2 separate regions of the Homo sapiens genome follow, and region 1 is linked to region 2. The links come from fine-mapping of genetic effects on gene expression. A gene starts in region 2. The other region holds a variant in brackets. All regions are shown on one strand. Distances are from middle to middle. Region 1 overlaps NINJ2 (ninjurin 2). Region 2 holds the start of NINJ2 (ninjurin 2).

Region 1 (5,376 bases), 58 kb before region 2:
TGTTGCCCAGGCTGGAGTGCAGTGGTGCCATCATGGCTAACTGAAGCCTGGACCTCCTGAGCTCAAGTGATCCTCCCACCCCAACCTCTTGACTAGTTAGAGCTACAGGCACATGGCCACCATGCAAGCTAATTTTTAATTTTTTTTTTTGTAGAGATGAGATCTCACTATGTTGCCCAGGCTGGTCTTGAACTACTGGGCTCAAGCAATCCTTCTGCTTCCACCTCCAAAAGTGCTAGGATTTCAAGCATGAGCCACCACACTGGGCCTGTTTGCGGTTTTGAGTTTATATTTTCTTGCTGGCTAATGATGTTAAACATCTTTTCATGTGCTTATTGGCCATTTGTATATTTTCTTTGGAAAAATGTTTATTCAGCTCATTTGCCCTAAAATTTGATTATTTGTCTTTTTATTATAAAGTTGTAAGAGTGCTTTATATATTCTGTATACAAGTCCCTTATAAGATATATGATTTGTAAATATCTCTCCCATTATCTGGATTCTCTTTTCACTTCCTTGATGGTGCCATTTGAAACGCAACCTTTTTTAATATTCATGAAGCCCAATTTATTTTTCCTCTGTTACAGTGCTTTTGGTGTCATATCTAAGAAGGCTTTCCTGCATGACGGTTTACTTACATTTTGTTCTAAGAATTTTAGATTTTAGCTTTTACATTTAAGTCTATGATCCATTTTGAATTAATTTTTGCACATGGTATGAGGTAAGAGTCCAACTTTATTCTTTTCCATGTGGACATCCAGTTATCCCAGCACCATTTGTTGAAAAGACTATTCTTTTTCTTTTTTTTTTTGAGACGGAGTCTCAGCCTGTCACCCAGGCTGGAGTATAGTGGTGCAATCTTGGCTCAGTGCAACCTCTGCCTCCCAGGTTCAAGTGATCCTCCTGCCTCAACCCCCTGAGTAGCTGGGACTACAGGCACGCACCATCACACCTGGCTAATTTTTGTATTTTTAATAGAGACGGGGTTTTGCCATCTTGGCCAGTCTGGTTTCGAACTCCTGACCTCAAGTGATCTGCCTGCCTCAGCCTCCCAAAGTGCTGGGACTACAGGCATGAGTCACTGCGCCTGGCCAAAAAGACCATTCTTTCCCCCGCTGAGTCGTCATAGAATTGGTGTATATGTCTGTCCTTACGCCAGCATCACACTGACTTGATTACTGTAGCTTTGTAGTAAGTTTTCCTGTTGGGACGCGTGAGTCCTCCAGCCTTCTTTTTCAAGATCATTTGAGCTATTCTGGGTTCCTTGAAATTCCGCACAGTTCTAGGATCAGCTCTGCAAAGTCTGCTGGGGTTTTGATGGGAACCGCATTAAATCTGTAGACCAATTTGGGGAGTATCGCTATCTTAACAACAGTAAAGGGATTTTTTAAAGTATAAGCTGCGAGGACAAAATAGACTGGAAGAGGAAATAAGTAGAACGAGGAGTAGTAAATGAATGTCTTGGCCGAGCAATAGAGGCCACAGCCTGGCCGGGTGCGGTGGCTCACGCCTGTAATCCCAGCACTTTGGGAGGCTGAGGCGGGCGGATCACTTGAGGTCAGGAGTTCGAGACGAGCCTGGTCAACATGGTGAAACCCCGTCTCTACTAAAAATACAAAAATTAGCCGGGCGTGGTGGTGGGCACCTGTAATCCCAGCTACTCGGGAGGCTGAGGCACGAGAATCGCTTGAACCTGGGAGGCGGAGGCTGCAGTGAGCTGAGATGGCGCCACTGCTCTCCAGCCTGGGCGACAGAGCGAGACTCAGTCCCAACAACAACAACAATAGCAAAAAAAGCCACAGCCTGATGCTTGCAGGAAGGAACCAACAGGATACGAGGAATCCAGGAAGGCACTGGGTGTGGGGACACAAGTGCAAGGGAGGTAGGGACGAGGTACAGACCTGAGATGGAGGACGGGCTGAAAGTCTACTTACAGAGCAGTTCAACCCTCCGACTCCTTCACCACCCCTCAAAGCCTGTTGACAGATCCTCCCCAAGGCAAGTGACCAGAGGTTTGTTATTTTCCAGAGCAGTGCTCTTGCGGTGTGGTCCAGGAACTGGTTTAGGTCCACAAACTGTTAGTGGCCCCAGTAAGATAAGTACAGGAAGCAAGAATATGTGTTTAGGATTTTCACGGAAATTTGACGTTGCCTCAGCACTCAGTGTGTGATCAGTGGGTTCTCCTGGCTGAAGGATAGAGGCCAGTTTGGATGTCTGAACTCCCAGAGTGAGGCATGTGCCGTGTGAGATGCGGCCTACTCATGCCCAGCAGGACCACGTACATGTCCCTGACAGAATGGGAGTTTCAAAACTCCGCCTTCCCCACAGATAGTCTGCAAAGTGCTGCTCTAGAGGCTGGCAGGCTCGGCTGTGCATCATGGGGAGAGGGTTGAGGCAACTGCTGAAAATCTGCATTCAGAACACTGGGACACCCAGCTGTCCTCCCACTTTCATTCCTGAAAACTGGCAACTAGGCTTATACCCTTCCCCAACACCTATCCCCAGACAGAAGTCCAGATGATTCCTATCGGAAAAGACTACC[T/G]TGGGGCTGGGAATAGCGCATGTGCCTGTAGTCCCAGCTATTTGGGAGGCTGAGGCCGGAGGATCGCTTGAGCCCAGGAGTTCGAAGCTGCAGTGAGCTGTGATTGCACCACTGCGCTCCAGCCGGAGAGACAGAGCAAGACAAAAATAAAAAATAAAAGAGATGACATAATCTAGAGAGACAACATTAAGACACTGACATCTGGAGTCCACTCAGCAAAGAAGCTAACACCCACCCTACATTTCTGCATTGAAGCTCCCCAGCAAACAAGCCCTACCCATGCAGATAAAGCTTCACATAACCTGGAAGATGAGGGGTTTTGGGGTTTGTTTTTCGAATGGGTTCTATATTAATATGGTTCGGAACTCAAAAGATTCAAAAGGTACAATGAAAAGGTCCACTTTGTCCTTCACAACTTAGCTCTCCTTCCAGTAAGCTTTTTGGTGCCTCACTGTTTAATATACACAGAAAGCCTACATGAAAGATGGAGACCAAAATAAAGAAATAAGAGAAGAGACAGAGAGAATGTAGGGAGCAGAAGAAAAGTGCAAAAAAGGAAAAGAATAACATCTGCAGAGAAAAAAGAGAAGCTATTCCATCAATGTAATAAGAACTGTGTCTTATTTTAGTTTATTTATTATTTTTAAAAATTATTAATAGAGATGTTGCCCAGGCTTGTCTAGAACTCCTGGCCTCAAGCCATCTGCCTGCCTCAGCCTCCCAAAGTGCTGGGATTACAGGCATGAGCCACCTTGCCCAGCCAATATTCTATTTCAAAAAGGAATATTCGGAAACCAAAGAAAAGAGAACTCTTGGAAACTAAAAATATGAAATTAAAAATATAAAAATTAAAAATTCAACTTAAGATAGAGAAACGTTTATAAAATCTCATAGAAAGTAGAACAAAAAGATGATAGAGATAAAAAATTAGATACAAAAGACAAAACTAAAGGATCACATCAGAAGATCCAACATCCTAACACTGAGAGTTCAAGATGGGCTGAACAAAGAAAAGAGAAAGGCAAAAATTATTAAATAAACAATTCAGATGTTTTTTCTAGAGCAGAAAACATCAATTTTGGGGTCAAAAGGACTTACCAAGTGCCCTATATAATGAATGAGGAACAACTCACCCCAAGCCACATCATTGTCAGCTTTTGGAACTGGAGGTCAGAAGGAATCTAACAACTTCCAGACATGAGCTCCAGAGGACAGAGGAGTGAAATGGCACTCGATGTCACAGCAGCCACACTAGAAGCTACAATTCTATACTCAACCCACTAGCAATTGCGGGAAGACGGTTTAGGTAAGTTAGTCCACAAAAATTGTCCTTCCTTTGCTCACTTTCTTAGGGAGTTACTGGAAGGTGTGCGCCACCAAAATCAAGGAAGAAGACAAGGAACCCACAGGACTGTGGGCCGAGTTGCTTTGGCACTAAGCAGAACAGAGGGGAAAGGAAGAAAGAGTGGAGCAAAAGAAGGGAGGGAGAGAGGACGACGCTTTGAACTGGGTGCATGGAGAAAGCAGTCAGGAGACCAAGAGGTTCCTCCTGGCATTTGAATCCCCGGCCCCAACTCTTCCGGAGGCCCGGCTGCAATCCTGTCCTTTGGCTTTGTGAGACACCAGATACCCTTGTAATAAATTCCACTTCTTATTTAACTAGTTCACATTGCATTTCAGTCACTTGCAACCAAAAAATTTCTCCTGATATATTGCTACTCAAGGTATTAGAACCTGGGAGCTTGCTGGAAATGCAGAACCTCAGGCCTCCCCCAGATCTACTCAACCAGAATCTGCATTTTAGCAGGATTCCCAGGTGACTTACAGCCACATCAGAGTCTGAGAAGCACTGTCCTGATATATCCACCTTGCAAGGTAGGGTGGCGAGCATATTAGGGATAATAGGTAAAATATTTGACTACATAGTAGGTACTCTGTAAGGGATGATGATGATGATGATGATGATGATGACGACTGGAGTAGAAATACTTCGGAATTACAATCTCAGAAAGAGTTCCTGGGACCATGGCAAATGGTGGCTTTGCACCAAATTACAAAAGCAAGCACACAACCAAAAAGACAGAAAGCGCAATATCCCAAGAAACAGGTTCAGCTCTACTCCAGGAGCCTGTTGGGTTACTCAGCCCAGGTGTTGACATAGGAAAGCCATTAAGAAAACCCTTCTCAGGTGTGGCCATTGGCTGTGAGTGAGTGATTGACAGTCAGATCCGGTATGATGCTTGGCTGGGGGAATGCTGAGCTAATGCCACCTTTCTCAGTAGAGCAAGCATTCTGCCCCAGCACTCAGGAAGTAGGTCAGGAGGAGATATCCTGTGTGAGCAGCTCCAAATTGCTTTTTCAGGCAGAAACCTGTGGCCCACAGGACTGGGGGTGGAAGGGGAATGGGGATGAGAGGAGGCTGGGGGCCTGCTGCGGGGTGGAGATAGGAAATCACGTCCTCATTCTTGGCAGGAGCAAAGTTGCCTGTCACATAGTTTTCCTGGCTCCAGTCCTTTGGCCATCAGCCACCGTCTTTGTGCTGGGGGTTCCGTTGACTTTCCAGTGCAAGCCAATTTGATGGAAGCTGGGGCTTAAAAGGAAATGTGCGCTTGTAGGAGCTGGTGTTCCATCTGGGCCCTCGGTGTGCTGTGGATGGATGGAGGATGAGTATCCAAGGTCTGGATCTTCCCTAGGAGCTAGCGGTCATTGTTTTCGAATTGTCCACCAATTACGTGGCACTGTACTCAACCCTTAAGAGTCTTTACCAAGCACACCAGCCCTCCAAGAATTTATATGCTAGAGTCCCCAGTCCTTTAGACTATCTTTAGGAATCT
Region 2 (5,376 bases):
AGGAGTGCAAGACTAGCCTGGCCAATATGATGAAACCCTGTCTCTACTAAAAATATGAAAATTAGCCAAGTGTGGTGGTACATGCCTATAATCCCAGCTACTTGGGAAGCTGAGGCAGGAGAATCACTTGAACCCAGGAGGCGGAGGTTGCAGTGAGCTGAGATTTTGCCACTACACTCCACCCTAGGCGACAGAGTGAGACTCCATCTCAAAAAAAACTGTAAAAATAAACATTATAATAAAAAGCTGTCAGCCATTGATGTACCTTTACCACCCATTGGTGATAATTGTACCACATTTTGGGGAAACATTGTTTTAACTAAAGAGTGTTATTGTTTTGTTTTTAGAGATAGGGTCTGGCTCTGCCGCCCAGGCTGGAGTGCAATGGCATGATTGTAGCTCACTGCAACCTTGAACTCCTGGCTTCAAACAATCCTCCCACCTCAGCCTCCCGAGTAGTGGGGACTACAGGTGCATGCCACCATGCCTAGCTAATTACTTTTAAATTTTTAATAGAGATAGGGTCTTGCTATGTTGCCCAGGCTGATCTCTAGCTCTTGAGCTCAAGTGATCCTCCTGCCTCAGCCTCCAAAATGCTAGGATTACAGGCGTAGGCCACCGTGCCCAGCCAAAGGTGGACAATAAATTGTAGAAAATAATGGATAACCTTCTGAGCAAAGGAAAATGTAAGATACAAGAATTAAATAGCATATTAGAAGAGAGTGAATGACAAATGAAGAGAAAGGTACACTAACACCTCAGTTACCTGCTAGAGAGAGACATTCATCCAGCCTAGCCAGTCATTTCCTTCTCCTTCCTCCCACCACCTCTTTCCTTCTGAACCTCTGGTTCAGATGCAGAGTCCTTAGCCTGTAACTCTGGATCGTTCAACCCATCAGCACATAAGAAACTTGCTCTTCTGAGAATGAAAATAAGCAGCAACACAATTTCCTTAACAACCAAGGATCTTATAGAGGCAAGAACTAGAAGTAAGAAGAAAACACATACTAGGGACAGAAGACATGGACTGGAGGTCTTGGGCCAATTAGGTGACCTTATTCCTATCTCAGAGCCTCTCCAACTCATGGCTTCCTCAACTCATTCATTTAACAAATGTTTTCTAAAGCAATGACCGTGTACCAAGAGTTGCCTCATGCACTCGGGCTGCAGCAGTGAATAAAACAGGAGAGGCCCTGCCCTCAGAGATCTTGTGTCCTAGTGAGAGTGACAGGCAATACATACTAAATAAATAAGCAGTGTAACTTTAGGTGGTGAGCAGTGCTATGAAAGAAATTAAACAAATGATAAAGACAAATTGGGGAGGAGGCATCCTGTGAAGAGGTTGGTCAGGGGAGGGCTCCTGGGGGAAGTAACATTTGAGCTGAGACCTGAATGTACTAGGAAGGGCCAGCCAGGAGATAAGCCAGGGAAAGAAGGTTCCAGACAGAGGGACAAGCAAGCCTTGCGGTGGGACCGCTCTCGGGGCTGGCTGCCAATCCAGGAAAACAGCACTGGGTATGCAGTTGTACTAGGTGAATGGTTTTGACACAGCACACCAAGCAGTCCTACAGTTCCCTGGTGGTGTCTCAAGGGCGGAGGGGCCAAGGACAGAGACTCTGCCAGACTCACGCCACCCTGCCCAAAACACACACAGAGAACGAGAGAGAGAGAGAGAGAGAGAGACGCGTGCACATACTCTGCTTCAACAAAACAGCTCTTCTTTAATCCGAAGTGTATATTGGGTGGCTGCTTAAGATTTTGTTCGAGGACCAGGTTCAGGGATCAGAAATTCTTGATCTCAAAAGTCCTTTTCCACACTTTGTTTGATTCTCTGCAATGTTACACAGCCTCAGCAGTGGTCATAGAAGGGTTCGTTCTATTCTATCCATTGGCAAGGAGTCACAGAGTGCAGCTCCCAGCAATCTGGCTCTCCTCTCACCGTAACATCCCACCCTTTCCCCTCCAGCAGTGGACTGGAACCTCTGATGCCTTCCAAGCCCATCCCAGCTACAGAGGGACACACATCTCTGCCTCTTCCTAGGAGATTAGACTGATTTCCTTTCCTTGCACTGTCCAAATGAGACGCTTTCTGTCCTACACAGTAGAGCTTTGTGAAGACAGCCGAGAAACGGCTCAAGTTTTTTCCAACCTGTAAAATGCAAAGTTGGCCAGCTGCCTCTCTTCCTAGCCTCAAAACTCATATATTTCCTGTCTCCCCGGCAGCTCTAAGAGAAGTCTCTACTGTCCTGGGGTTTGGGGAAAGCACTGCTCAGAATGTGAAATCATTTTCTGGTAATACGGATCTAATTAGCTCTTTGACTGACAAGAGGAAGCAGAGGCCAAAAGGGAGTTAACCAATCTGTTTTTCAGATATTTCAAAACAAGTGAAGAACCAGATAGGGAAACAGAGAGAAAGAGAAAATAAAGAGACAAAGCCTAGGGAGCATTTGGAGAAGGGAGTGAGTAAGAAGAGAACGGGGAGGGAGAATATCAAGTGACTAAAGTATCAATCCTCTGTTCTTCCAGCTTCACCTCTACTCCCGGTCTCCCCTCTGCTCTCTTCCAGAGAGAACTTACTTGAAGGTCGATGTTTTCTCTTGCTGATTCCATCTCGCTGCCCTCAAGTCCCTTCACACGCACCGGGTGCCGGGAACAGACTGCGTGGGCTCCTCCAGGCTCCGCCGTCTGAGTCTCTGCTGCTTTCTTCGGGTGGGAGAGAGCACACAGCTGGCGGGACAGACCTGCCATTCATCCCTCTGATGTGGGATGCCCGTCTTGGCTGCAGCCTCTGGGGGAGGTGTGCACCTGCACACACGTGTGAGTGTATGTGTGTGCACATGTGTGTGCTCCAGGAGGTGGCACATGGCACACTGATAGGTGACCTTTTGAGTTGGTAGTGACAGCATCATTTTCACCAGTGGCTCCAGTGACCTTCCAGTCCCAGCGGAGCCATCTGAGGTCACCCAGCCTGCTTTGAGCTAGTAGCTTTATGACTGGCAAAGAAATCCTGCATGTTTATCAAGCAAATTGAAAAACAGCCTGAGGACAACGCTATCTGACTTCACCGCTGGGTCCAGTCCCCAGTCGCCACGGGTGGAGTGACCTCCAGCACAGTCTCAATACTGAGGCAGAGGGATTTCCGTTGTTCTTTGCTTTGTTCCCTATATCCCTAAAAGTTTTTAAAAAAATTGTAGTTTACCTAATAGGCTCCAAAGCATAGGCTTTGTTCTGCAAAGTGAGTGAACAATACGTTTTTACTGACGGATTGTTTGATTCCTTCAACTCCTCCCTTGATTAGCCATAGAGGGAGCAGGGAGTAGTTGTACCTTCGAAGCTTGTTTATGCAAACAGTGGTATTCTCCCTACTTTTAAAATAAAATTACCAGGAGGGAGTCTTTTTTTAGAAAGTTTTTTTTTTCCTCTCCTGTTTACCTTAGAGCCCAAAACTCTTCTGGCTTGTTCCTGAAGCAAGGTTTAGACACAAGCTTGTGCAGGTGTGGGTGTGGGTATGTCTGTAGACGTGCATGGCAGGGTGTTAACCTGTAATCCAATTCAGGGCTTGAAGAGGTGCGGGCAGGAGGAAGACAGGCAGAGTCAACACGTTTACCCTCACCACATTCAAATGTAAAAAAAAAAAAAGGCGATTTCTTCAGTTCTATGAAATGCCTTTATAAGTTCCCATCCCTCTGGACAGTGGTGCGAGGGAGGGTTGGATGATTGGATGGGGGCCATATTTTAGTCTAATCTATGAAGCATAGTTGGATTTAATCATTTAAATGGTAAACAGTCCACTTTAGACACAATGCTCAGTCTTTCGGATTTGCAGAAGATGGCACCTAGGTGCACAGGAGGGCGGGGTGGGGACGGTTCTTGCATCTATCCTGTGGCCTCTCCATCTCGGCTCCTTTCTGTTCTGGAGCTGCTGGGCCCACGGGCCCGCCCGAATTGCTGACTGCTGAGGAGACACAGGTCCTGCTCCTGGGTCTTCTGCTGGCCTTGGTGGCTGATGTCTGATATTAGGCCAGAGTCACTCATGGGTGATTCTCTTTCTGCCTTTGAGATCCAGTGTTCTCCCTTGCTGTCTGCGCTACCTTGGCTCGTGGCAATGTGGACCATCCTGAGACCTGGCTTTGACTTGTATGTGCCCCCATCCCACTGTATCCGCTCAGTGGCCCACATCTCTAAGATAAGCCCCTCGAAATTTTCCTGTGAGATGCTTGACCAGTGCTCCTGAGCCCCCTTAGGCACATGGGGACTGAGGGCTGCTGACGAAGGGCAGGGGAAAGGCAAGCTCAGCCCCACTTCCAGCAGAGTTTGCTCTGATGTGGCTGCTCCAACTGACACAGGGCAGTCTGCGAGGTGATCTCCTTCCACATTCCTGAATGGAAATGAGACCTGGAACCCACTCTTCTCAGCACTCCTTAAAAAGTCTACCAGTAATATCTATCACCCCACCGCTCATAATAATACCACTATGTATCAAGCACTATTCTAAGCACTTTTTTTTTTTTGAGATGGAGTCTCGCTCTGTTGCACAAGCTGGAGTGCAGTGGCGCCATCTCGGCTCACTGCAACTTCTGCCTCCTGGGTTCAAACGATTCTCCTGCCTCAGCCTCCCGAGTAGCTGAGATTACTTCTTCCCATAGTCCCCTTAATCTAGAATCAGAAAATGTACGCTTTGTCTTCTTTTTTTTTTTTTTTTTCCTGTTTGGCTGGGATGTATCTGATGTAGAACTCTATGACAACAATTCAAAGGGAAATGAAGAAATTTAGAAAATCCTCTCTCTCAAGAAAACCTGGTTGTCAAAAATATTGTCTTGGCTGGGCAGCATGGCTCATACCTGTGATCCCAGCACTTCGGGAGGCCAAAGCCGGAGGATCTCTTGAGCCCAGGAGTTCAAGACCAGCTTGAGCAACATAGTGAGATCCCATCTGTAGAAGAACTTTTTGGCTGGACATGGTGGCTCACACCTGTAATCCCAGCATTGTGGGAAGTAGAGGCAGGAGGTCACTTGAGCCCAGGGGTTCAAGACCAGCCTGGGAAACACAGTGAGATCCTGTCTCTACAAAAAAAAAATTTTTTTTTAATTTAGCTAGATGTGGCAGCTTGCAGCACCTGTAGTCCCAGGTACTTGGGAGGCTGAGGTGGGAGGATTGCTTGAGCCTGGGAGCTGAAGGCTGCAGTGAGCTATGATCATGACACTGTACTCCAGCCTGAGTTGACAAAGCAAGACCATGTCTTAAAAAAAAAAAAAAACTTTCTGGAAAACCTTATTTCGGATGCCAGAAGCAAAATATTAACTATTTATTTCTCTTTGCACTCCTGTTGTGAAAATCCTCATTATCTTTTAAATAATATGGATACATCTGGCTGAA

The links. PIP is the estimated chance that this variant, and not a neighbour inherited with it, causes the effect. A credible set is the group of variants that fine-mapping cannot tell apart.
Region 1: its variant is the best candidate, but not a certain one, in a credible set for the expression of NINJ2 in monocytes (TOPMed, PIP 0.68).

Annotation. Positions count from the first base shown.
Region 1 is chr12:602,868-608,243 of GRCh38, forward strand. The region is part of intron 1 of NINJ2 (ninjurin 2); the gene reads right to left. Among named protein-coding and RNA genes, the nearest start is that of NINJ2-AS1, 25 kb to the right of the region's middle. The variant T/G (reference allele first, on the strand shown) is at 2,543.
Region 2 is chr12:660,751-666,126 of GRCh38, forward strand. It overlaps NINJ2 (ninjurin 2), which reads right to left and starts at 2,695. Exons shown (of 4, transcript NM_016533.6): 1 at 2,578-2,695. The coding sequence starts at 2,610.